Homo sapiens: one gene and its partners. The protein of the gene in region 2 purifies or fractionates together with the protein of the main gene of each other region. This does not show direct contact. Each region holds a gene or a part of one and is shown on either strand. Other genes may lie near its edges.

What was found. Proteins that work in one complex are often made in the same cells at the same time.
Region 1: the proteins of SPATA46 (region 2) and CSNK1A1 purify together in Homo sapiens (affinity purification with mass spectrometry; 3 studies listed by BioGRID and IntAct, with this or other methods). This does not show direct contact.
Region 3: the proteins of SPATA46 (region 2) and SNX24 purify together in Homo sapiens (affinity purification with mass spectrometry; 3 studies listed by BioGRID and IntAct, with this or other methods). This does not show direct contact.

Annotation. Positions count from the first base shown.
Region 1 is NC_000005.10:149,541,440-149,548,439, reverse strand, and holds part of CSNK1A1 (casein kinase I isoform alpha), read left to right. Parts: intron 1-2,595; exon of another isoform or gene 2,596-3,170; intron 3,171-7,000.
Region 2 is NC_000001.11:162,373,752-162,381,640, reverse strand, and holds the start of SPATA46 (spermatogenesis-associated protein 46), read left to right. Parts: upstream 1-4,786; 5' UTR 4,787-4,850; coding exon 4,851-4,953; intron 4,954-6,237; coding exon 6,238-6,351; intron 6,352-7,024; coding exon 7,025-7,593; 3' UTR 7,594-7,889. UniProt on the Homo sapiens protein: Plays a role in spermiogenesis and fertilization.
Region 3 is NC_000005.10:123,002,613-123,009,612, reverse strand, and holds the end of SNX24 (sorting nexin-24), read right to left. Parts: intron 1,932-7,000; coding exon 1,864-1,931; 3' UTR 408-1,863; downstream 1-407. UniProt on the Homo sapiens protein: May be involved in several stages of intracellular trafficking.

The DNA of each region.
Region 1 (7,000 bases), on a different chromosome or scaffold from region 2:
CTGCACTACTACGCCTGGCTAATTTTTGTATTTTTAGTAGAGCTGAGGTTTTGCCGTGTTGGCCAGGCTGGTCTCCACCTCCTGACCTCAGGTGATCCACCTGCCTCAGCCTCCCAAAGTGCTGGGATTATAGGCGTGAGCCACCGGGCCCAGCCTGTTAGCCCCTTTTTCTATTCCAGTTTGTATTTTTCATGTCTTGAATTAAGGACTGGGTTGCATAGTCTTTACATGGAAACAACTCAAATAAAACTGTCCTTAAAAAGAGTTCCAGCCAGGCGTGGTGGCTCACGCCTGTAATCCAAGCACTTTGGGAGGCCAAGGCAGGCAGGTTACTTTAAGTCAGGAGTTCAACACCAGCCTGGCCAACGTGGTGAAACCTCGTCTCTACTAAAAATACAAAAATTAGCTGAGCATGGTGGCACGTGCCTGTAATCCCAGCTACTCGGGAGGCTGAAGCAGGAGAATAGCTTGAACCCGGGAGTCGGAGGTTGCAGTAAGCTGAGATGGCGCCACTGCACTCCAGCCTGGTGACAGAGCGAGACGCCATCTCAAAAAAACACAAAAAAACACAACAAAAAAAAAAACAAAGTTCCAATGCTGATTTACAGTTTTAATGGAGAATTGAGTGATAAAATGTGCTATTGGTTGTAAATGAGCAAGTAAATCATTTGGAAGAAAGTTGCAAATTTATCTTATGAGGTGAAGATTAAATCTGAGATGATATAGATTTGAAGTTTTTAAATCATTCTTGCCTTTAAAAAAAAAACCTACTATGTGGGAAAATAAGGCCCCTCACCCCTGATTTGCTTTCCATTACTATAGTTTTTCCTAGAATTTCATATAAATGGAATCATACGATATGAGGTCATTTGTGTCTGGCACTTTTCACTTAACATAATGTTTTTGAGATTCATCTATGTTGGGAGATTTTATAAATTTCACAAATCAGGTTAAATTTAATGTATTTGAAATCAGTTTCAAAAAGCATTAAGCATTGTCATTTTTCAGTGCTAAACCCAAGTACAGTACATGTCCTTTTATCTGGTAGCTTTTATTTAAGACCTGATACAGACCCATAAGGGCAATGAGTAATGTACTGAATAAGCACATGAATAAATTAACTTCTGAGCAGAATTATAGTAATAGGTGCCTATTATAAGGTGGTGAGTGCAGAGAGAGTTATGGTAGTTATAAGCTGTCTGTGGGTGAGGCTAAACAGATTAACCTGACTTTCAAGTTAAGGCTTCCTGAGAGATGGGATTTCAGGATCTGGCTCTAAGGAAGAAAGCTTGGTGAACTGGTTTGGTAAGGCATCCAAGAATAGAGTGTGGCTTCTGGGTGTAGTCTCTAAAGGAGAACACAGTAATTGGATGAGAGTGTGGAAAGGGTAAATTTGCTTTAGGAGTGGTAGGGTCAGGTACATGGAAACAAAAGTGGTTCATTGGTTTTAAAGTGAAATGTAAAAAAAAAACTGTTTCCACTGAAGCAAAAAGGATAAAGATTTATGTAAACATTCTTTATTTGGGTAGCAGCATCTTCCCATCCCCCTCAGTTTGTTCCCCACTATTTCTGTATCACCTATACATGGTACATACTTAATAAATATTTACTCGGAAAGTATTGAATTAAGTTGACTATTTAGTGTTAGCTAGATAAAAGTTATGTGTTATCTATTGTTTTAGAAGTATTGTCACTAATTTAAAAAATTTAGATTTTGCTGCCTTTATCCTTCATATACAAATTTGTTCAATCCCTTCCCTATGTTTTCTGTTACAAAATTCCCTATAGGATTTGCTTTTTTTTTTTTTGACATGGAGTCTCACTCTGTTACCAGGCTGGAGTGCAGTGGTACAGTCTTGGCTCACTGCAGCCTCCACCTCCTGGGTTCAAGCAATTCTCCTGCCTTAGCCTCCTGAGTAGCTGGGACTACAGGCACGTGCTGCCACGCCCAGCTAATTTTTGTATTTTTAATAGAGATGGGGCTTTACCATTTTGGCCAGGATGGTCTCCATCTCTTGACCTCGTGATCTGCTCGCCTCGGCCTCTCAAAGTGCTTGGATTACAGGCATGAGCCACCGCACCCAGCCAGGATTTTCTTTAAGATACTTTGGTATATCTTACAACAGAGACTGAAAATTACCTGGCCTGCGTAGATGACCTGCTGAATCAGGTCCTTCCTGTGTAATTTGAGAGACCTATTGTTAAGAAGCATAGCATCCTGAGTAAAGAGCAAGGATAAGCCGGGCGCCATGGCTCACGCCTGTAATCCCAGCACTTTGGGAGGCCGAGGTGGGCAGATTGCCTGAGCCCAGGAGTTGGAGACCAGCCTGGGTAGTAGAGACAGGTGAAACCCTGTCTCTACTAAAATACAAAAAAAAAAAAAATTAGCCTGGTGTGGTGGCGTGCGCCTGTAGTGCCAGCTACTCAGGAGGCTGAGGCAGGAGAATTGCTTGAACATGGGAGGCGGAGGTTGCAGTGAGCCAAGATCGTGCCACTGCACTCCAGCCTGGGCGACAGAATGAGGCTCCGTATCAAAAAAAAAAAAGCAAGGATAAGAGAATGGCATCCATTTTCTTGATATTTTAAGAAATGAAGCTTCCGGTTCTAGGCACTTGGAGAGCCGCGGCTTAAGGTACAGACATGGCCAAGTCCACGAACCACACCACACACAACCAGTCCTGAAAATGGCACAGAAATGGTGGGCTCCAGGTTCCTGAGGAACATGCACTTTGCCAAGAAGCACAAGAAGGGCCTAAAGAAGATGCAGGCCAACAATGCCAAGGCAATGAGTGCACTTGCTGAGGCTAGCAGGGCCCTCGTAAAGCCCAAGGAGGTTAAGCCCAAGATCCCAAAGGGTGTCAGCTGCGAACTCGATTGACTTGCCTACATTGTCCACCCCAAGCTTGGGAAGTGTGCTTGTGTCCGCATTGCCAAGGGGCTCAGACTGTGTGGGCCAAAGGCCAAGGATCAACCAAGGCCCAGGCTGCAGCTCCAGCTTCAGTTCCAGCTCAGGCTCCTCCCAAAGGCTCTCAGGCCCCTACAAAGGCTTCGGAGTAGGTATCTCTGTCTGCCAACGTGAGGACAGAAGGACTGATGCAACCCCCCTGGGCTGCCGTCTTTATGGGGCTGGGGTCCTCCTGTGCTATTAGTACAAATAAACCTGAGGCAGGGGAAAAAAAAAGAAAGAAAATTCTTGGACCTTGTCAATTAATATGTGAGAGCTCACTTAAAATTACAGTTGACCCTTGAACAGTGCTGGGGTTAGGGGCACTGAACCCCAGCCCACTCCCACTGTGCCCCACAGTCAGGAATCCAAGTGTAACTTTTTTTTTTTTTTTGAGATGGAGTCTTGCTCTGTCACCCAGGCTGGAGTGCAATGGTGTGATCTTGGCTCACTGCAACCTCTGCCTCCCAGGTTCATGGGATTACAGGCGCGCCGCCACACCCAGCTAATTTTTGTATTTTTAGTAGAGACGGGGTTTCACAGTGATGGCCAGGCTAGTCTCAAACTCCTGACCTCAGATGATCCACCCACCTCGGCCCGCCAAAGTGCTGGGATTACAGGCATGGACCACTGCACCTGGCCCCAAGTATAACTTGACTCCCCAAAAGCTTAACTACTACTAGCCTACTGTTCACTGGAAGCTTCACCAATAACATGATTGGTCAATAACTATATATATATATATATATATATATATAAAGCTCTTTACCCTCATCATCCTCACTTTGGGCTGAGGAGGAAGAAGAGGGGTTGATCTTGTTTGGGTAGCAGAGGCAGAAAAAAACCTGTGTACAAGTGGACCTGTGCATTTCAAGCCCCTTTTGTTCAAGGGTCAGCTGTATTGAGTTTCTGTTAAAACCTTTTTTTGTGTGTTCCATTCTAAATTGAATTAAGTTCTCCAAAGGAACAATTTAAAAATTTTTTTAAATTTTTTTTATATAGATGGGCTCTTGCTATATTGCCCAGACTGGTCTTGCATTCCTGAGCTCAAGTACTTCTCCTGCCTCAGCCTCCCAAAGCGCTGGGATTATAGGCATCAGCCACCGTGCAATGACCCAAGAAACAACTATGACATACCGAAAAATTCTTTATCTAGATAGGTTTTGGAGGTTTGAGCTGTAGATCTGCCATGTGATATTGACTGGGTCATCTACAGTCAGTCAGTTCCTTAATGTGTGTAAGCCCATCTGTTTCCTCATTTAGAACATAAAAAAAGGATTGTTCTAATGGGAAGGAGAGTGCTGAATAGAAAGATTTAGGGCTGCCTACCCTTCTTTTGCCAGCTAAATACTCATTTCCATTTGCCTTTGCATACTGAGCTTTTGGGTAGGGTTTTGTTTGAACAAGGGTTCCCTACTTAAAAGTGTCACTGGCCTCATTGATCCTAAGGACTTTTAGTCCTGGAATTTTAAGACCTATTTTCAAAGGATAGTAGCTAGAAAAAAAGCATTCCAGCAGTTTGATATTGTGTCTACTACTTGCCTTCCTTTCTTGTTTTTCCTATTTTTCTTTCATCTTTTATTATTTTTATTTTTAGCGGCAGGTTCTTGCTCTGTCACCCGGGCGGAGTGCAGTGGCTATTCAGAAGTATGATAATAGCACACTACAGCCTCAAACTCCTGGACTCAAATGATCCTCCTGCCTCTTAGCCTCCTGAGTAGCTAGGACTGCAGATGAATACCACCTCTCCCAGCTGCCTAGTGTGTTTTAATCACTATTTTTGCCCTCTGTGTCTGAAGGTCAAATGTTTTAGAACGTATTTATAAAGCACTAGTTAATCCTTACTCTTCACTTTTAAAAGCAGCTTAATCTTATCTTTGGCACTGAGCATATATCCTGTGAATAACATAATGGCTGTTATCAGAGAATAAAGATGACGCTGCATTGGATATGTCTTCATTAAGATATATTACAGTGTCCATGCTTAGCTTGGACTAAAAAAAAAAAACCAGAAAAACGTACGTCACAGATCACGAGAAATGTGCTTTTTAACTTGAAGGGAAACTGAATTCATGGTATACTAGAGCTGCTTTATACTGGCTTATGAGATAATGTAATAATGCTAGGTAGCATTTTAAGCTGGACAAAATGTTAGAGATGTATATAGCCCTATTCCTACTAATACAAATTAGACTGTTGAATCTCAGGGGAGTTACTGGAGTGTCCTAACTTCCAGTTCTTCTGAGAATCATTATCACCCTTATGTCAAGGTCAAATCATGCCCTCTCACACACTCCACATCGTTTCATTTGATACTGGAGAGCCATCCTGTACTTCTTCACTTGTTGGCATTTTGCCTCATAGACAAGCTGAAGAGCTCTTACATAAATATAAGTAACCTATTTGTATTTAATTAGATGCTTACGATTCAGGGTGTTCTTATTCTCCCTTTTGAATCTGTGGATTGCAGGATAAAAACTTGCTGGAAATTATTAATTTGTGGCCAGGCGCAGTGGTTCACACCTGTAATCCCAGCACTTTGGGAGGCCAAGACGGGCGGATCACCTGAGGTCAGGAGTTCGAAACCAGGCTGGCCAACATGGTGAAACCCCATCTCTACTGAAATACAAAAATTAGCCAAGCATGGTGGTGTGTGCCTGTAGTCCCAGCTACTTGGGAGGCTGAGTCAGGAGAATTGCTTGAGCCCGGGAGGCAGAGGTTGCAGTGAGCTGAGATCATGCCACTGCACTCCAGCCTGGGTGACAGAGCGAGCCTCTGTCTCAAAAAAAAAAAAAAAAAAAAATATATATATATATATATATACATATATATATATATATATATATATATATATACATATATATATATATATATATATATATATATATATATATATATATATAAATTTGTATCTCATTTCGGAGTAAATGCTTGAACCCATGTAAAGTATGTGGGTTATTCCTTGGCTTTAGTCAGTGGTCCCCAGCCTTTTTGGCACCAGGGACAGGTTTCGTGGAAGACAGTTTTTCCACAGACTGGAGCAAGTAGGGGGTGGGGTGGGGGTGGGAATGATTTTGAGATGATTCAAGTGCATTACATTTATTGTGCACTTTATTTCTATTATTATTACATTGTAACATATAATGAAATAATTATACAACTCACCTTGATGTAGAATCAATGGGAGCCCTGGGCTTGCTTTCCTGCAACTACCTGCTTCCATCTGGGGGTCATGGGAGACAGTAACAGATCGTCAGGCATTAGATTCTCATAAGGAATGCACAACCTAGATCCCTCTGATGTGCAGTTCACAGCAGGGTTTGCGTTCCTATGAGAATCTAATTCTGTTGATCTGACAGGAGGCTGAGCTCAGGCGGTAATGCCAGCTTTGGGGAGTGGCTGTAAATACAGATGAAGCTTCACTTCGCTTCTATACTGGATACCGGTCAGTGGCCCAGGGATCAAGGATCCTTGGCTTTAGTCATTTCTGGACCTAGATCTTTTTTTTTTTTTTTTTTTTTTTTTGAGATGCAGTCTTTCTCTGTTGCCCAGGCTGGGATGCAATGGCGTGATCTTGACTCACTGCAACCTCCACTTCCCAGGTTCAAGTGATTCTCCTGCCTCAGCCTCCTGAGTAGCTAGGACTACAGGCATATACCACCATGCCTGGCTAATTTTTTTTAGTAGAGATGAGGTTTCACCATATTGGTCAGGCTGGTCTCGAACTCCTGACCTCAAGTGATCCACCTGCCTCGGCCTCCCAAAGTGCTGGGATTACAGGCGTGAGCCACCGCACCTGGCTAGATCATTTTGTTTTAAAGTATATTTAAGCTGTACCTAAAATATCATTAAGTCTTGGTTTTCTCATGATCTGTCACTGTTCACCAGGGATTTTTGCTGTCAAGAATGAGTGTCTTCATAACTTTCATCATTTAACTTGGTGTTCAGTGTATGCACACAGGTAAAATGATGCTTTATTGTGTTACTGTTTTTGTTTCTAATTTCAATCTCAGATGGCTCTTAAAATTTTGGTTGACTGGCCGGGTGTGGTAGCTC
Region 2 (7,889 bases):
GTTGTTCCTGTAAACCTGCCTCCTTGACTCATGGGCTTGGCCCCTTTACCTTGGAGTCACCACGCCCTTTGGAGTAAAGAAAAAATGAGGATGAAGCAATGAAACATGACATTTTTACATCACCGTAAGCACGTGCTGAGCTCTCAGTGGGTTGGAAGCTGGTGGAGGGATGGCATGGATGAGGCTTGGTGTTAGAAGCTCCCCACTGAAGGCCATGAGTATAGCACATATTCTCCACAAAAAATGGGGCAGCAGCTCCTCAGGTCTACAGAGGTGGGCCTTGAGCGAGTGGGCCAGCTCTTGCAGAGGTGCTAAGTGGTGGTTCAGAATCAGTTCGTACCAAATGGATAGGAACTCGGTGCCAGTGAAGCACGAGGATCCCAATGAACATCAGCTTACTTAATCCTTACAACCACCTAGGGAGGTGGTACATGGAAGGATATCTACCTACAGATGAAGCCTGCAGGACTCCGCGTAATGCAGTGCCGTGCCTGAGGTCACACAGCTAAATACTAGCAGGGCTGGAGCTAGAACTCAGGCCTTCTAACCCACAGCTCAGGGCTCTGTCCACAACTTTGCCCTGCTATAGATCATGGAACAGCTGCCTATATATGCCTGGTACATGGTCCTTCTTGTAGGGATCCTCTTTGGCTTGAAAAATTAACTCAAAGAGCTGGGTATAAACCCATTAGGTTGTAAAGATTTGCAAGGCAGAGAGCATGCCTCATTCATCTTTGTATTTTCAACACCTAGCCTGGGTTTGGTACCTAGCTGTGCTCAATACAGATCTTGAATCGCCAAAACCCATTTTGTAGATAGAAAATTGTGGTGGCCAAGGTGGTAGCTTAAAGGTTTGTTATTGAAATGACTGGAGCTCCAGGCTCTAAGCCATGCTGTCCACACACTCACACTTGGCCATCCTCTCCCTATCTGGAAATCCAGCTCAGTCATCAGGCAGCCAGACCCACTCTGAGGCCTTGGAATCTGGGTCAAGGTTTCTGTCTACACCAACTACCCCAGATATGTTGTCAGTCTGAGGAAAGGAGATCGCTCGATCATTTGATGACTAGGCTCCTTTCCTTGTGAACACCTCTGCTAAGTGTCTATTTTCACTGAGCCTCTTCTAAGAGTAACTGGGGTTAGGGTGTACTTTTTCTTCTGCTGAATTTTTGTGTAAAGCAGTTCTTTCTGCCCTGCACTGCTGTATCCCGGGCCAGTGAAAACCTTTCTTGTGGTTTCAGTGGTGCTATCCTTTCTAGGCCAACTACCTAGGTATGCCATATTCTAAGGGCCTTTGGGTGGCAGGGAGGAAAACCTGTGGGAAGTGAAGTGGAGACTACTCTCTGCGGATGAGCCCTGTGGCCTGCACCACTGCAGGGTGAGGACCTGCCAGGGAACAGCATGACAGCATCCCTGGGACACAGGGCCCAAGCTGGCTGGGCTCCAGATAGACCCACCACACCAGCAGAAGCTTCCAGCCCGCTCCACAGCAAGCAGGGTCATCAACTCCTGATGATTCTCCTAAGTGTGTATCTTGCCACATCATCCACTTTGGCACAATTTGCCTGTCAGGTCCCACATCCTTCTTATTTTCTTTAATCACGTCATCCGCAAACTAGCAAAGAAGATTTGGAAACCAAACCATTTAACTATTTCCCCCCAAACCAGAAAGTACATAGACAACAATGAAACTGTACGAAATGCCCGGGGAAGGCAAATTGCCACCACTTCCCAAATCAGACATTTCCCTGGTGGTCTCCTTATTGGTTTAAAGTGACTTTTCAGAGCAGACATACTCGTTTTTAAAAAGGCAAGCACCAAAAACACCTGTCAAGGTGATTAGTAAATTATAAGCTATTATTATTTTTAAAACACTCTTTGTAATAAACAGAACTCTGGATTATGCACCATTTTGGATTTCCTGTATTTTTTGCTCTCTACCCTTCATAACATAGTCTATAACGCACTGAATTCTTAAGTAATGTAAAGATAGCCTACCATGCACTCCCTTTACCCTTGTCTAAGTCTTTCCAGTAAATACACCTTGTCTTAAAATGGTAAGGTCCTTGAGGGCCATAGCTCCTGAAGTGTTTCTTTATCTTCTACAATGCCCAGCTTAGGGTCTTGCACGATAGTAGGCATTTAATAAGTTTGTTTAATTGAATTTGACTTTTATATGAATTCTTAAAAATTGCATGATGGACTGACATTGTAGGGAAACTGCTCACAAGTCTTTTTCCATTTATAAAAACCACTCAAAACTCCCTCTATGGGAGTGGTCTTCAGGGGCTCTTGAGGTCAGACCCGGATAACTGCCCTTCTATTCAAAGTGAAAGTGGGGCTCTGGCTGGGGGGTCCCTTTATCCCTATGTCTGAGGATGTGCAATGGGTCCCTTTCTTGATGATGACGCTAATGACCCCCACACATTATCTCTCTTGCTTCAGGACTAGAGGCTTGATGGTTCAGAAAATAATGGCAATGGAGGACAGAGAGATGACTGGACCCCAGCCAGGTGGCCCTCCCAACAGTACCCCCCAACATGCACACACCCAAGCAGAGGAGGGCATCTGGGGATGTAAGTCATCCACAAAAAAACAGGATATCTTACCTGTCCGAGAAAGGGGCTCGGAAAGCAGGTGGGAAACAAACAAAAGAAAGACACATTTTACGTAGTGACCAGTCACTTTGAGAGTGTCACCTCCTGCCTGGGCCACCAGCACCAGCATACCTCGGGGGGACACAGCACACAAGACAGGGGACCTGCTACGAGGAGTGGTGTGCACCCTGGAACCGCCAGGCTCCCACAAACTTTTCAGTGACTAAACCAAAACCGGGTCGCATTTTAAAAACTCTACACAGGCACTGAGAGATTCTGCCTCCCATATTTCCCCCCAGTATTTTAAGCTCCCTTTACTTTAAGTCTGAGGTTGCAGTGGGAGAGTCTGAAGTTGGCAGTCGGAGAAATGTGATGGGTCAAGACAGAATGCAATTCCAAGTCCTCGGGGTCCTGTGTGCATCACTCACAAGTATGCTACTGTCCACATGTCAGTCACTGGGTTTTAGCCAGGAAGATGTTCATCCATTCCAGTTTAGAGTCTAAACTAATAACATGGGTAAACCAAGTAGCAGAGAGATTTGCCCAATATCACACAGGTAGCTCATGGCGGAGCAGGGTTAGAAGTCACATAAGCTGATGCCCAGACTCATGAGCTTTCTCTACACCATAATGGACCAAATGAAATTGCTGATACCCCCCAAACTGCCAAAGTATGTGGCTTCAACTTACTTTCCAATACATGCTAATGTTCCAAACCAGGCTATCTGGGAGGAACACGAGGGGAATCATGTTCTCCCATTGTCCTTCGAATGTTTCAGTACCGTGAATAAATACACACAGGAAGACAACTCTGGGCTCTCACGTGCAGAAGCTAACTCACACCTCACTCACACATGCTCGACAGCACTGCAAAACAAGCCCATCACTATTTCCAGAGCGGCCATAGCTCCCCATGCAGCATAAACATACCTGCCATCTAGATCTGCAGCCCTGCTCTGTATCTAGTTGACATGTTGTGATAATCTAGAAAGGGGTGTCTTCAGCTTATCTTCCAAGTGTCACAATCATCTTTCACCTTATTCCACACCTCGTTAGTGCACAAGGTTGTTATAGGACAAGCGAAACGAAGAGGCAACCTTGCCTCTCTGGAGTCCCAGAGTCTCCCCATCAAACTGACTTAAGCAATGAGCAAAATAGTATTGAGTAAGCCACCCATTTGTGCTTTAGTCACTTGCTAAAAAGAGCACCAACCACTGAAAACAATATTTGGCCCCTATTCTTAGGAAATACACATTGAAGTACTTAGGTATAAAAGGACATAGTGTTTATAACTTACCTTCAAATAGTTCACAGAAAAAATTAAGTATATACACATACACATGGGGCAGGGGGCAGGAGGAAGGGGACGGATACAGCAAATGGGGTAAAATGTTAATAGGAAAATCTGGATACAGGGCATAAGGGTGTTCTTTGTATTGATTTTATTTTTTGCAGCTTTTAAGATGGAGTCTCGCTCTGTCACCCAGGCTGCAGTGCAGTGGCGCTATCTCAGCTCACTGCAGCCTCTGTCTCCCAGGTTCAAGCGACTCTCCTGCTTCAGCCTCCCAAGTAGCTGGGATTACAGGCACCCACCACCACGCATGGCTAAATTTTATATTTTGAATAGAGATGGGGTTTCACCATGTTTGTCTAGCTGGTCTTGAACTCCTGACCTCAAATGATCCACCCGCCTTGGCCTCCCAAAGTGCTGGGATTATAGGCCTGAGCCACTGCACCCAGCCTAATTTCTGCAACTTTTACAAATTTGAATTTCCAAAGAAAATGTGAAAAATATATACACCTCAAAAAACAAACTAAAACAAAACAATAAAAATATTTGCTGACAGAGATTAGGCTGATAAAGGAGAAGAAAAGGAAGGAGATTATTCAGACAGGACAGAGGTTTCCAGGGCTGGAGGGCTGGGGGTAGACAGTGTCAACACAGAAAACTGATGATAACAAAGATAAAAGGGGACAAATAGACAGCATCACTACAGTATCTCTACTACATTCTTCTCTCTGGGTATTGTCAATCAGGGCCTGCCACTGGGCAATGGCAAGTCAAATACAATCTTTACACATTTTAATCTTGCTTTCAGTAGACTCCATTCATCTTCCAAAGGGTAACCTAGTTGGTAGTGGAATCATGTGCCTTGTGACATCAACTGTGCTCAGAATGTTTATCCTCTGGACAAACCAGCCAGCCTCTCCAGAGCAGGCGTGTGATCTCTGTACCCCCGCAGTGGTCAGAATATGGAGAACTTCTCACTCCTCAGCATCTCTGGACCTCCAATCTCTTCCTCCGCCCTGAGTGCTTTTCCCGACATTATGTTCTCTCGTGCCACCAGCCTGCCAGGTAAACTTTGGTGCCACTAGGGCCACAAAGATGTGGTTTTTTTTGAAGCTTTTAATTGAGTACCCTACCAGATCATGTTACAGGACCATGATTTAGTGAGAAAGTCAAATTACGCATGGGGAGAAAATAATTTTTCAAAATGCTGCATTTGTGGTAAGTAGTTACTGCTGTGTATTGATTTTTGGTAAGGGAAGAAAGGGGAAAACTTTTTTTTTTTTTTTGAGACAGAGTTTCACTCCTGTCGCTCAGGCTGGAGTGCAATGATGTGATCTCGGCTCACTGCAACCTCTGCCTCCTGGGTTCAAGTGATTCTCCTGCCTCAGTCTCCATTTATCATCAAGTTTTTCCCCCTAGATTGTGCATGAAATCTCAAGGTGGCAGTATGTCTACATAGAGTAGAAACTAGTTTTAGCTCTGTTTTGACAAGTTTGGAGAGGATTTGGAGTTAGCCAAATCAGAGAAGCCTAAGCAGCAGCGTAAACTGATGAGCACATCATGGAATAAAGTTGGACACCCTGAGGACTCCCTGTTCAAAATACGGTCCTTAGACTTGCAACGTCTGCATCGTCTGGGAGCTTGTTAGAAATGCAGAATCTCAGGTTCCCACCCCAGATCCACTGAATCAGCATCTGTGTTATTAACAAGATCCCTAGGGGATCTCTATGCACAGTAAAATGGAGAAGTACTGCTCAGTGGAGTAGGCCTCCTAAGCATCCATTTGTCTACATATATGACATTTATAAATTTGTCCCCCAAACTGAACACAGCTGCTATTCTGGGATTTGAGGCAGGTCAGCTTTTTGTCCAAGTGTTAGCACTCCAGGGTGTGCCGTGCAGTGATGGCCCACGGGAACCCTGACTGTGGGTATGAGATGTTTCAACTGGACAATCCTCAAAGCGGGCATGGAACATTGCTCTGCAGCCTGTGACTCTGGGTCCCAGGATGCTCAGGAGACTGGCAATGCGGAGTGAAGCCATCCGCGTGATGAGATGCAGGAGGGTTAGGTGAGGGGCAGGCCAGGCGGAGAGGTGTCATCTGGGCTACATCATAAATCCCACTTTCCAGAGGATCTTTCTGAGGCCTGAATGAAATGGCCCCATTCAGAATTCCCCAGGATGTCATCCAGAATAGCTCTGCCTGGCTGAGTTTGAGAGGTCACTGTTCTGTTTCAGCGTTGAGATGCCTTGAAGTACAGAGGTTGAGCCCCTAGGTATGCCTGGGGGAGTCCCAGAAAGTGGAATCCCAACCTTGCTCAGCTCACCAGTGTTTCTTCTATAACCCAGACATTGCAAAGACAGCAGTACCCACTGAGGCATCCAGCCCAGCTCAGGCCCTGCCACCCCAGTACCAAAGCATCATTGTCAGGCAAGGGATACAGAACACAGCGCTCTCACCAGGTGAGGACTTCTCTGACTCTGGGCGGGAATGTGTGAGAGGCTAAGGATGAAAAGGGGCTGCTTCCCTAAGGAAGCAGAGGTGTCTGGAAGCTGGACCCCCATGCGCGGTCTTGTCACCTGCAGCCTCCTATCTGGCCCTTCTTCCTTTGGTAGACACCCACAGGCCTGGGGCTCTCGCCTTGCCTCCCCTCTCCTGTCTCTGAAACTGGTGTGCAAGAGCAGTTTCTGGCTGAGTGGGCCGTGGAGGGATCAAGATGAGCAGTGAGGCTGAAAAAAGGGTCACAGCCATGGGTGGCGAAAAGAGGGACTGTGGGAGGCCGCCGGTTTGGCTATCCGCTGGGTCACCTGTCTGTGTCTATCCTTAGAGGAGTCAGTGGACATGGTGTCTCCAGGAGGGGAAGGCCTCGACAAATACCAAGGCTTACCAACTAAAAGCAGCCTCTCCTGCCCCAAGATCCAACGGCCCTTTGTACCCCTAGAAAAAGAATGCAGTGAGAAGGAATGCCCTCGGCTGCTCTTACCACTGTCTTGCGTCTGCTCTCAGAACTGCAATCGTGGTGGGGTGGAGGTAACCGAGGTCATGCCTGATGTTTGCCTTCTTACCTTTCTGCTCCAGCATCCTTGGCTCCACTGCTCCCTGCCAGAGACTCAGACCTGGTCCTTTCCTTTGCAGACTGCAGCTTGGGGGATACCCAGCACGGAGAGAAGCTGAGGCGGAACTGCACTATCTACCGGCCCTGGTTCTCCCCCTACAGCTACTTCGTGTGTGCAGACAAAGAGAGCCAGCTGGAGGCCTATGACTTCCCAGAGGTGCAGCAGGATGAGGGCAAGTGGGACAACTGCCTTTCTGAGGACATGGCTGAGAACATCTGTTCGTCCTCTTCCTCCCCAGAGAACACTTGCCCTCGAGAAGCCACCAAGAAATCCAGGCATGGCCTGGACTCCATCACATCCCAGGACATCCTAATGGCTTCCAGGTGGCACCCAGCACAGCAGAATGGCTACAAGTGCGTGGCCTGCTGCCGCATGTACCCCACCCTGGACTTCCTCAAGAGCCACATCAAGAGGGGCTTCAGGGAGGGCTTCAGCTGCAAGGTGTACTACCGCAAGCTCAAAGCCCTCTGGAGCAAGGAGCAGAAGGCCCGGCTGGGAGACAGGCTCTCCTCCGGCAGCTGCCAGGCCTTCAATAGTCCTGCTGAACACCTTAGGCAAATTGGCGGTGAAGCCTACTTATGTCTCTAGAGAGATGCCAATAAAGTTAGTCACAGCCTTCTGTCCAGTCTGAGGTCACCCCGCACAGCCTGCTGTCCTTCCCAGAACCCGGCTCTCATCACCTTTGGCTAATGGTTGCCTAGCAACACCAGGCACACACCCTCCCCTTTCTCTCTTTTAAAAATAAAGACAATACTTGAAGTTTGGGAAAATCATCTAAGATAGAGGTTCTCAAAGGTGCCCAGCTGGCAGTACCAGCAACCCCTGGGAACTCTCAGGCCCTCCTCAGACCTACTGAATCAGAAACTATGGGTCTGGGGCTGGCG
Region 3 (7,000 bases), on a different chromosome or scaffold from region 2:
CTGGGTTTTCCCACTCTTGTGAGGTGTGCCTCCTGCAAATCTTATGATGTCTGCATATGACTTGTTTGACATGGGAAATAAAATTTACATAAATATAAAAAGCGAAAGTCATCACTAAGAAAAAACTTAATTCTCAGAAAAGATTTCTTGGGCAGTGTACCACTATAGATACTTGGTTTTTTCAAAAAAATTCTTATTATCTTGGTAAATCATCAAATATTTAATGAACATCTACTGACTTAATAGATGAGATAATTTATTATAATAATTTATCTTATCATATTAGAAATAAACATCTATGTGAATGTGTGAGAGGTTTTGTGTGTGCACATATGTGTGTGTGTGTGTAAACAGACAGATACAAACCATGTTTCCAGTGAAATCTTAGGAGAAGACAAACTCAAATGTTTCCTTGTTCTGTTTTTATTTAACTCCAAATAGCTAATAACATAAAAACATTTTAAAAAAATCTCCAATACCCAACTATTACTTTTGGTTGACAACATTTGATTATTTAGTTCTTGCTTGTTTCCCACATGTAGTACAGAATCTATCATAATATTTTAAAAGTTTGCAGCAGGCTTAAAACCTGAATATTTAGATCCTAATCAAAAACCATGATGTAGTTATTAGTTTTGATTTTAAATACCTTGCTCCCACAGAACTTACTAAAACGAATAACCATAAATAGGCTAGCTATTAATTAGATCTCAATGAAATGCCCACATACAGCACATACATATAGGTAGTATATATGCTTTTATCCTTTACTACTCAAAGGATGATGTACAGTGGAGTTATATCATAAACACATTTAACTTACATTAACTCAACAAATGAGGTCAGTGAAAAGGAAGCCGTAAGGAAAATAACATGAAATCCTGTGGCGATCCCACCTAAAATGAATGCACACCCTTGAGTAAACCCAGGTGGGTGCTGTCCATCCGCTGGGTGGGCGCTTCACTCCTTGTCAGTTCACATCTGCCACTAGCGGGGCAAGCATCTTGCGGGCTGATTCTAGTGTTAAAAGTTATGTGCTTTTTTTTTTTTTTTTTTAACAAAATGGCCCCTAAACAAACACCAACAACTTCACTTGGTCTTCAAACAAAGAAACAGTCTTTTTTTCCAACATAGGAGGAAAAGCTACTTGTTGTGGATGTACAGGTTTCCAACATGGCACCCTTCTAAAGGGCTTTCAAGGATCATCCTAATAGCCCATTTTACCTATGTACTGACCTTGGAAGCTAACCCCTGAGTATGATGCAACTCCACTCTAATGTAAATTAAAATGCCATGATCTTAAAAATGCCATAATATTGTCAGTATAATTTAATTTCCAGTTTAGTTCCATCTTCACATTTAGCAGTGTGTGTCTGTGGCCGTCTCCTGGTGCCAGCATTTCAGAATGTACTATCACTGGCTGAGAAAATCTCACGGTGAGAAGAGTAGTGTGTCATAAGATCTGAACAAAAAAGCTACCAAAGTTGATCAGTCTCAGTATGATTCAGGATATGATTTTCAATTAGCAAATGGTGCGACTGAAGCAGAGAGTGGCTTTGTTTTGCTACACCCAGTGCTCCCAGGAATCTCCTGTGGCCTCCTTTTCATGGGTTTCTACGCTGGCAGCTACACTCTACTTCTTAAACACTTGGCCTTAGCCTGACCACCGCCCCGGTTCAGTTTCTATTTTTAAGAGCACCATTCTAATGGAAATGTCCCTGCCCTGAATTAAGCTGGGACTGTGCACTTTACCACTAGCTAGAGCTGTTATATATCATAGCGTTTAGGTTAAATTGGTAGGTATTGATTTCCTTGACTGTGACTTCGAAACTTGCTTCTGCTTCTTTTAGCCATGTAGGATTTCTACCTGGGCTGTAGATGAGGGTAAAATATCCCATGGAGGACTCCTTCAATAACCACATTTGGAAAATCTGAAAAAAAGAAAAAAAAAAAGAAAAAAAAAAGAAAAACTGCTTTTCTTATGTGAAACAAAATATAATTGCATTCTGTAGAATGGAACAAGGCAATGCTTACGGTAAACACAGGAATCTGCATCGCCAGGCATGTGCCTGGTTGAGGATGTGCTATCAGTCATGCTGCTTCAGCCTAAAGCCACTTGAGCACACCACCAGGCGCGGCAGGAATGTGCGGCCAGATTTGTAGCTTATTGATTTAAGGGATGTTCTAACAGTTAATGCTGCTAGGCCTCAGCTCTTTATCTGAATGTTTTCTCAAAAGGAAGATGGATTACACTGGCAATTCAATTTCTAACAAAATCTCAATATACTTGAAGGAATTCCAAGATTTCTACTGGGAATACCTCACTGCAGTTTTTCCATTGTGGTTTACAGTGCATTTAGTCCAAGTTGTCCTGAGTCTACTTGTTCCATTAGACTAGCTTCGAAAGAGAGCAGTAAGATGGGGGTCAGTCTTCCTAACTTAAAAGGGCAAATTTCCAACAGAAGCCATCCTGCCAAACTTGAAAACACAGCTCCATTATTATAGGAGACAGGAAGGGAGGCCAGGGGTGCAAAGTATGTTACAGCACATTCCAGTCATTACAGTAGGTAAAATGTGAATGGATTACTTGAATGGGAACCAATCTATCTCATGGTTCAGAAGTTTAATTTTTAAACTTTAATCTGTACATAATGATATCCAGGAACTATCCTAAAGCACTTTAAATAAATATCATTATTATGTAAGAAAATAAAAGTAGTCCAATATTTTAAGAAAAAAAATATGCATCTAGCCTCTATTGTCTACTGTGTAAATAAAATCATTTACTAGGGGATTGGGCCTCATCAGAGGAGGCAGAAAGGCTCTCAGAGGCTAGGGGTAGGCAGAGGGAGCTAGCCAGGTGGCAAGTCTGTGGCCAGAGGGAGCCTGGAGGGTTCAGAGACCTAAACGAAAGCCAACATAGTGAGAAAAGTGGGAATGAGGAGGCTGGAGGGCACGGGGTGCCCCATCACACCTGGGAAGAATGGATAGGAGTTTGGGCTTTATCTGAAACTCAATGGGAAGCTACTGAGGGAGTTTAAGCAGAGTGGGACAGAGTTGAACTGTGTTTTGAAAAAGATGATTCTGGCTGCCAGCTGGAGAATGGACTGGAGAAGTTCAAAGCAGACACAAGATCAGTTTGGAGACTACTGCAGTAGTTCGAGAGGGCAATGGTGGCAGCCCAAACGAGGTTGAGGATGGAGAACCATGGAGGAATTCTAGAGAAATGAAGGACGGGACCAAGTGACAGGTTAGATGTGGCTAGTGAGGGAAGGGGTGAAGTCAAGGATGCCTCCTGGGTTTCTGGCTTGCATAATCAGAGGGTGGTGGGAGAAGACCCAGAAGAGGAGTAAAATAGAAGATCATCAACTCTGTCTGGAACTTGTGTTTGAGGCACCCGTGAGACTTGCCAAAGGGGAAGTCAAGTAAGTGATAGAATGTGGTGACAAGTTTACCTCAACATATATTTATTGAGAGGCCTCTGTTTCCTGGATCGACCACTTAATACCTGTGTGACCTTAGGTGAGTTATTGAACATCTCTGTCTCTCTCTTTCCTCAACTGTGAAATGGATTTCATAATAGTATCTACCTTATAGGCTGTTTTAAAAATTGGGGAGACAAGCGAATGAACACACAAACTATATCTTAGAAAATCTCTAATACATGAATATCCAGTTATTTCTGGTTGATGACACTTGATTTTTTTAGTGCATGCCTTTCCCCAACATGAAGTAATGGTTTTTCATGAAATATATCTTTGAAAGCGTGTGATAGGCCTTACACATGTATATTTAGAGCCCAATAAAAAACAATAATTTAGCTAAGTTAATTTTAATTCTAAATGTATTTCTCCCACATAGAAGGATATTAAAATCAATTGCCATAAATAGAGCTGTTAATTTTCTAAAAGATACTCAAATAGGACATATTACATGACGGTGGCAGACATGCCTTTATTCTTTGCCACTCACAATATAGAAGTCGATTTGAAGGTCAGTGAAATTACATTGTAAGTATATTTAGCTTAAAAGGATTCAACTAAATAAGTTAAGCAAAAAAGACATAAAGGAAAATAACATTACATACTATGGGTAACTCTACTGCGCTGGTAACATGTTAAGCAGTGACAAGAACAGGGCAAGGAGAAAAATACAGCAGGGCATGGGCTGGAGAGGGCCCAGAGACAGGGAAGTGAGGGAAGAATTTGAGTGATGGTGCCATTTGGGTGATGACTTGCAGGAAGGAACAAAGCAGCCCGCTGGGAGGGTGTCCGGGAGAAGGGCATTCCTGGCAGAGGGAACAGCAAGTGCTGAGGCTCTGTATGTATGTCCACCAAGAGCTGAACATATGCTAGATGCTGGGGATTTAGAGGACAAAGCCAAAGAACAAAGATAAGATAGTCTGTGACCATTACTATGAAGGAAGCAAATAGGGTTCTCTGACAAAAAGTGAATGGGATGGAGGTGTTTTAAAGCAAGGTCCACCAACTAGCGATCAGAAATAACATAATCAGGGTTTTGGGTTGTTTTCTCATCCGTTCCACTCTACTTTAAACTGTGGATTTTGGCTTCATCATATGCATGATTTACTACAATGTCCATTATTGCCAGCATTACTCAGTAAACTGTCCTTGACTTTGATTCTCATTGAGAGGTGATGAGAAGGAAGGTGATTTAGGGCAGGTTTTGCTGTTATTTTTGTTGGTTTTTGCTTATTTAATGAACATGTATTGTGAATGGGTAGAGGGGCTCGTGGAGAGGGAGAATCAGCACAGGCTCTCTGAAGCCGTGGCATTCAATGTGAGCCCTGGAAGATGAGAGGCAGCCGGCTATGGATGGAGAAAACAAGGCTCACGGTGGAGGAAACAGCACATCTGAGGCCCAGAAAGAATTCCAGGGTGGCTAGGGCAAAGTGTATGAGGAGGTCCAGTAGGAACATGAGCCTGGGGCAGGCCACAGAGGGCCTTGCAAACAAACCACAGGTAAGAGTCTGGAGCTCCCAGGACAGAGTTGAGATGGAGATACAATATTGTGACTCAGGTGTATACACGTGGTAGGCAGGCCACACACAAGGAGATTATCTGAAAGGAAGTGTAGTGAGAAGAGGAGAGGGTCTATGACAGCATTCTGGTCAGCTGCTAGAGAGTGGAAGGAAGTGGGAAAGCCAAGGGGAGACACTGTTTGAAGGAGGAGAAACAGATCAACATGTCTAAAGTCCATGAGAGGCCAAGGAAGATGAGGACTGAAAAATATCCATGGGCTTCAGCCACACTGAAATCACTGGGGACTTTGGCAAGAGTTGTTTTGAGTTTCCCAGGAAAATCAAAACAAAGACCAAAAGGCAAATGCTTTTCAATCTGTTAAGAGAGTACTCTCCTGATTTCTAATGTTAAAAGCTAAGGGATATTTGATTATTAGTATTTTATAAGAGGATAATGCTTAAATGTCAGATCTTTGAAGACAGACACTCCTCTGACTTTGTAGGGGGCGGGGTCAGTACATCTGTGAAGAAATTTCCATACGCAATATCCTCTGGAATAATAACCTTAATATCTTGCTAAGAGGCATCATAACAAAAATGTGATGCAAGTAAAGTTTCTCTTTAAATTAAATGCTAAAGATTTGCAAGAATATATCATTAGTATAACACTTCTAAGATCACAAGAATCTGATTCGTGAAACTGGATTGGTCAAAATTCCAAGAAAACAGATCTGGTGACTGGTCCTTCCATACCTCCCATCCCATCCATCAAACCTGTGATCCATTTATTCTCAAACAGGAGTTCCCTTATTTTGCAAGTCTTCATCCATATTACCATGCTACCAATGATACATACGTTTTACTCTTTCCAATTCAAGACATTTACCCCTGATGTTTCTTCCCAGAAAGTTCCTCCTGTTCTTCACTGTCCAAGCCAGGCATAGAGCACATGGTAGGCACTGCTCAATAAGCTGTATGAATTGGATTTAAAGGTCATAAAATATCTTCCCTCTTCTATCAAGTATCTTGGCTATTCTAGTCCACAGTAACCATTTCACTGTCTACACTTCTGCAGGAATTTCAGTCAGATGCATGACATATCTGAGCATAAACAATACATGGAAAAAGTGCTTGTGGAGCCATTTTTCAAAGATAATAAGAATAATTTATAAAACTATCTATTTAATCTATATTAGATTGCATTATGAATATTTGTTAAATATGATATTTTAACATGACATCAACTAACATGTATATTTGTTAAACATAAGAAGCAAACGTTACAGAGAGAAAGTTATTCTTCACTGCGAGGATCTTATAGGAAAAAGAATATGAGGTCATATTCCTATACAGCAAAGGCAGCTCACTCTGATCGGGGTGCTACTAGGAAGGGTCCCTCAACCCTTCCTAGGGAGGAGCAGGGCTGCGTCCTGGCCACCCTTCTTCAAACTGACAGCTAAGTGGGTGATGTGAGTACGTGTATCCTTGCTATAGAGAGCAGTTCCCTTTCTCCTGCTCATAAGGTTTTATTGTCAGAAACAGGGAGGGTTTCAATGGATTATTTATCTATTACTATTTAGTGACTCCCAGAAACAAGATTCACTATATGCAAAGAGCACAGAAGGAATACATAGGCAACAAGAGGTCCACCCATCAACCATCTGAGAGTGGACAAGTCAGGGACTTCCCTGGACCCCAATTTTCTCATTCAGTCAATGATAATATCTGCCCTGCTTAGTTCACAAGGTTGTTAAGGAAATTAAATGAGATAATGTATGCAAATGAGCTCATAAAGAGATGCATAACAGAACACTTTGAGAGGGACTCTGATGAATTTAAATTTCTTTGCACAGAGAAAAGACTCAGTCGAAAATATTGATTACAATTATACTTAGATCAATTAATTGTATTTAAAATATGCAACTTTTAAAAATATATAGTTTGCCATCAAAGATGCTGCAATGTATATACACATAGTTTCGGGGAAGAGGCTTTTTTTTGAGACGGAGTCTCGCTCTG